2 separate regions of the Homo sapiens genome follow, and region 2 is linked to region 1. The links come from fine-mapping of genetic effects on gene expression. A gene starts in region 1. The other region holds a variant in brackets. All regions are shown on one strand. Distances are between the middles of the regions.

Region 1 (2,905 bases):
TTGGGCCAAAACCACAGTGGCATCCTCAGCTCCTTGCTTCCTCCCACTCCGCATCCAATTCACCAGCAGAGCTGATGGGCTCTACCTCCAGAACCCACCAGAATCTTACTGGCCACACCCCCTCCTAGCCCCGTTCTGCTCCAGGCCTCCGGTACCTTGCACCTGATGGCTGCAGCGGCCACCTCTTTGGGCTTCTTCCTTCCACCCTGCCTCCTACAGTCTATGCTGTTGAAATCGAATCACGGGTGTCTGTCTCTGCTCACAACCTTGCAGTGGCTCCCATGACACTCAGAACAAAAGCTGAAGTCCTTCCAGTGGCCCCCCCCCCAGCTGCATGGCCTGCCCTGCTGTCACCTCTCAGACCTCCCCGCACCCTTGCTCCCTCTCCTCTGCTCCAGCTACACAGGCCTTCGCCCCATGGTTCTCCAGGCACACACCGCTGCGGATGCATTCCCTCCTCACGGTCAAAATACATGCAGCTCCCTTTGCAGAACGTTCCCTCAAATACCTGCCTGGCCCACTCTATCATTTCCCTTGTTCTCTGGGTTCAAATGTCACCTCCTCTGAGAAGTACTCTCTAATGATCTGACCTCAAGCAGCCACCCAGGGCCGCCACTTGCCCTCTTTCTTCTTCATTTTGCTTCACCATCTGACATAGTAGATTATCTCTTACTGCCTCTTTCCCCTACTAGTCCAGAGGGAGACATACTATACTGTCGTATCCCCAGCACCCAGGAAGGCTTGGTCCGTTCAGCCCTTGGTCAGGGCTGAATGGATTTCTGTTGGATGAATGAAGGGACGGCAGTTAAAGAGCCAGGTTGCCAGCTGACATTGCCCAATCTTGCTGTGTGGCCTCAGACCCACCCCTGCCCCTCTTTGTGCAGCTCAGAGACAGCCCTCTGTGCTCAGGGAAGGCCTCTTGGATGGACACTCCACCTGCTGATTGTGACAGACCCCAAAGCCGCCCTCTGCCCCCTGCAAACCTCCCATGCCCCGTACCTTCTTCAGCCACTGCGTGTTGTTCTGCAGTGCCTGCTCCAGCTGTTTCACCTGCTGGGTGGGCAACTTCCCCAGGTGCAGTGGGTTGGCCAGTGATTCTCTCTGGAGGGTGTTGGAGTCCCTGGAGACCTCAGGCCCCGGAGGGCAGGGCTCAGACTTGGGCAGCAAGAAGGTGTAGCTACAGTGGCCGTGCTGGACTACAAGTGTCTCGCAGCCCCTATCCGCCTCCTGCCTTGTCTGTTGAGCCACAGACATGGTGGCAACCACAAGGAGGAGGCTGCCCTGCAGCATGGCTAGCTGGGAGAGCATCTGAAGATGTGTCAATGGCGAGGGATGTCTGCTCAGAGCCCTAGGGGCTGTGCCTGGGATGTCCTGCTGCAGCCAACAGTGGCCAGGCTTGCCTGCAGCTGCAGCTACAAACCTCTGTCTGGCCGAGCTCTGTCCAGGCAGCTATTTATACTTGCTCTGAATACCACGGCTGCTCTGCTTGCTTCCTCTCACCGCCTCCCTCCGGCCCCACCCGACACCCTCTCACCTCTATTCTTCACTCCTTCCCTTCCTCCTTCCTCAGTCTTGGTGGCACGTCGCCCTTACCCTAAGCGTGCACCAACCTTGCTCTGTCTGCCTCACCTCTGAGCCCTCTGATTATCCAGTGAGGCCTGGCTTCCCTGCTGGAGGGGAGGGAAGAAAACAGCACACAGACACGCGCACACACTCATGCACACACTCACGAGCACACACTCACACGCACGCTGACACGCACACACATTCATGTACACACAAACGCCAAGCTCCAATGCTGCCCGCTTTGGAAAACCAAATGCAACTTAACTCTCCCTTCCTGTCTCTGTCTTGGTCTCCCTCTTTCCCTCCACCCCCATCCCCTGCCCCCCAAGTCTAAGATCTCAAGTTTCAGTCCCGCTGCCATCCCCTTCTCTCCCCGCTGCACCTTCCTCCCTCTGGTTCCATGTTAGCGCTTGGAGTACAAGTGACCCCCGGAGAGAGCAGAGGGAGGGGAGGAGGCAGAGGGGTGAGGCTGGGGAGGGCCCAGCGAATCCACTTTGCCTCTGGAGACACAGAAAATCCTTCCAAGGTGGGGCAAGTGAGCAACCCAGCTGGGAGTTGCTTCCTGTCCTCTCTTCTCCCTCAGGGCCAGGGGAAAGTGGTATGCCCCAGGATGGCCCTGGCTTGGTTGCTTGTAACAGTAATGAGAAGTTGTCATGTCCTGGGGCAGATTGTCCTGGGGCTGCTGGAGTGGGGATGTGGAGAGGAGGCAGTGGGGAGAGGAGGTTGGAGTGCCAGGAGGCTAACCCTAGATCTCGCTCCCCGACAGCTGGCCACGAGACCTAGGGTGGGCAGCTGTGCCTCTCTGGGCCTCCACACCCTGATCTGTAAACTGGGTAAACCTTATCTCTTGCAGGAGGAATGCGTGTGAGTCCTCAGCATGGGGATGGAGAAGTTTTCAGCTTCTGGGTTCAAATCCTGGCTCTACCATCTACCAGCTGTATGACTTTGAGTAAGTCACTTAACCTCTCTGTGCCTTCATTTCCTCCTGAATGAGGAAAATAATACCACCTACTTCACATGGCATGAAAATTAGGTGAGTTAGAGCAAGGTTGGCACAGAGCGAGCACTAAATAAATATTTTCCGTTGTCAATGTTATAGTTGTCATTGCACCTCCCCTCCCACGACCCACTGGAGCATAAACTCCTCTAGGGCAGGGATTTGTCCCTGGGGGACATGGTCTCCAGGCAGAAGGTGCCCAGGAGTTGGTGGGGCCTTTCCTGCATGGGCTGCCTTTATGTTCTGCCAGCTGTTTGGGCTTTTCCTCTCTCCCTGCTTGTTTCCTCAGAGTAGGGGCCAGTCTGGCTGTTTAGTATTTTCCTTTTTGTTCTCTCAAATCCC
Region 2 (2,905 bases), 130 kb after region 1:
TTGAAAATCATGGACCCGGGGAACACATTCCCCTGTGGTCTGTTAATAGAGGCCCAGCAAGGCCAGCCGAGGCTGTCAACTCACCCCCCACTAGGACCCTGTCATTAGCCACACTCCCCCAACCCTGCCCTTGGGTGGAAGTATGATCTGGTGGGCACTGAGGGGCTGGGCCCATCCAGGCCCCTTATTAAGCCTTATTAAGCCCACAGACGGGGAGCAAAAAGGGGAGAAGAACTTTCTCCCAAAGGTCAGCTGTTGGAAAAAGAAGGTACAGATGTCTCTGGGGTGGTCGTCTACTCTCAGGCCACAAGGAATGTGAAAGTTTGCCTGGCCCAATCTGCTCTGCTGTCTTCTTGCAGGCTGGGAAACTGAGGCCCATACAGGAGACAGGAGGGACACACAGAAGTCGGGACAGAGCCAGACTCAAACCTCAGGCCGGCTCACAGACCATAGCCCAGCCTTTCCCTGAAACAGCCTCAGCATCAACAATGGGGAGGGAAAGGAATGGGCATGAATGGGGCTCCTGCTATATGCCAGGCCCTTGAGCAAAGCATTTTCTGTTCATGGAGCCACTGGTCTCCTCTGTATCCCCATGAGTAAAATGGAAGTTATGCCTGTCCTGTCACGGATTGAACAAGCATTTGTTAAACATCTGTTATACTGTGGGCCAAGCACTGGTCTAGGTGCCAGGAATATGGCATTAACTAGCCAAACAAGGTTTCTGCTTTCAGAGAGCTTACTTTCTAGACAGTGATAGAGACAGACAAATAAGTAGGTAGATAAAATGTGATATGAAGAAAATTGAGGAGTGGTATGAGATGTACAAGGATGGAAGGGACGTTCTTTGGATGAGATGGTTGGGAAGGGCCTCTCTGAGAAGGTGATCATGGTCAAGGTCATTAATTGTCCACCAAGTCCATTCTCCCCTTTGCTAGTATGTGGGCAAAGCCCACAAGTGGCTGTCCAGGCAGGGTCAACATTTCCCAGCCCTATTTGCATGCAGGTGTGGCCATGTGACTAGCTCTTACCAATAGAATGGGAGCAGAAGTGATGAGTGCCACATCCAGGCCTAGCTTTTGAGAAGTGAGGGAGCTTCCCCCATGTTCTTGTTACTTTTCCCCTGGCTGAATTCAAATGATGGCAAGACCCCAAGATAGAGGAGCCACAAGATTAGAAGAGCCTGGATTCCTGCATCACCACATGGAGGAGAGCCACTCATTGCCCTGGCACATCCATTGCATGAGTGAGAAATAAACTTCAGGTGAGACCCAAAAGACATGTGATGAACTGGTTAGGACATTGCAGGCAGAGGAAATAGCATGTGCAAAAGGCTCAAGGCAGAACCAAGCTTGGCATGTTGGCACAGAAAGGATACCAATGTGGCCAGAATAAATGGCACAAGAGGAGGAAATGAGGTGAACCATGCAGGCAGTGGCCTCAGTCAGGAGTCTGTATTTCAAGTGGCCCCAGTGGAGGTGGCGCCATCAGCAGGGAAGAAATACCATGTGGTTCATACTTGGAAAAGATCCCTCTGGCCACTGTGCAGAGATGAGTTGGAAGGAGGCAGGAATGGACACACCAGAGAGGAGCTGGTGCAGTCATCCTAGCCTGGATGAGGCTGGGGACATAAGAGTGAGTGAACAGAGTGGGTTTGGATATATTTTCAAGGGCTTGCTGATGGGTTGTTTGTGGAAGGTGAAGGAAACCAAATAACCCACAAGCCATTAAACAAAATCTAATGCAGAAGCCAATATATATTAGTAAACACTTTAGGGGT[C/A]TCTGTCTAGCTTCTAATCTTCCTTCCCTGAGAACCTCCCACTTATGCCTATCTGATAACTCTACTTATCTGATAAACTGGCCCCTCCCCTGCCCTAGCTCATGGAGCTGGAGATCGGTCCCTGACTGGGGCTCAGCCAATCAGATCATCCCTGGCTGTCAGACCCCAGTGTGTGGCTGGATGGGGAATAGGCTGGGCCCTAGCACTCTCTCCTTGATAGAGATGATGGGGTAGGGGGAAGGTCAGCAGCCCAGAAGCTGAGGAAGAATGAACTCTCCAAGGACCACCTACCCATCCCATAGCAGGCGAAACATAGCTGCAAGTGGACTCAACCACCCTCAACCACAATTGGAGCTGCCACCAGCCAAGTGTGGAAAGGGTTGGTCTTTGCAGAGCCCTGGACTGGAAGAGGAGAGTGGGTCTCCCAGGGCAGAAAATGGGAGTGGCCAGCTCCAATTCTGTGCCTCAGGTTGGGAGACATGATCCTCTGGGTTCTTTCCATACCCTAGACAAGGATATTCCTTGTCTGAGCCTAGACAAGTTATTCCCCTGGGAAGGAGGGAGGTGCTTCTGTTTCTCCATCTGTCAGGTGGCTGAGTATAACAGATTTCATTTCCAAAAATGGCCACAGCCCCCTGCTCCTCATGAACCCTGCCACTCTCCATCAAGAGGGAGAGTTTATTTCTCCTCCCCTGGAGACTGGCAGGACTTTGTGACTGCCTTGATGAATAGAACGCAGCAGAGGTGACTGTGTAACTTCCAAGGGTGGGTAAGAAAAGACAATACAGCTTCTCTCTGGCTCTTTGTCTTGAGACACTCACCCTGGGAACCAGACGACCACGGTGTAAGGAAGCCCAGGCCCCCTGGAAAAGCCAGAGGTAAATGTTCTGGCCGACATTTACCCAGCTGGGGTCCCAGCCAACAGTCAGCATCAACCACCAGACCCATGAGGGAATCAGTCCAGCCCCTGGCCATCAAGTCTTCCATCTGAGGCCCCAGACACCGTGGAGCACAGACAAATCTACCCACTGTGCCCTTCTGGATTCCTGCCCCACACAATATGTGAATGCAATGAATGACTGTTTGATGCCAGTGTGTTCAGGGGTGATGGGTAACGCAGCACTAGAT

Which allele goes with the higher level. Alleles are on the strand shown, and positions count from the first base shown. SD is a standard deviation of normalised expression in the study named.
As copies of C replace A in region 2, the expression in subcutaneous fat of the gene that starts at base 1,428 in region 1 goes down (moderate effect, 0.61 SD a copy in FUSION).

The links. PIP is the estimated chance that this variant, and not a neighbour inherited with it, causes the effect.
Region 2: its variant is fine-mapped to the expression of ANGPT4 in subcutaneous fat (FUSION, PIP 0.95).

Annotation. Positions count from the first base shown.
Region 1 is chr20:914,907-917,811 of GRCh38, forward strand. ANGPT4 (angiopoietin 4) reads right to left here and starts at 1,428. Exons shown (of 9, transcript NM_015985.4): 1 at 1,000-1,428. The coding sequence starts at 1,308. It overlaps LOC105372492 (a long non-coding RNA gene), which reads left to right. Exons shown (of 3, transcript XR_937185.3): 2 at 2,420-2,515.
Region 2 is chr20:1,046,289-1,049,193 of GRCh38, forward strand. No RefSeq gene overlaps it. Among named protein-coding and RNA genes, the nearest start is that of RSPO4, 45 kb to the left of the region's middle. The variant C/A (reference allele first, on the strand shown) is at 1,778.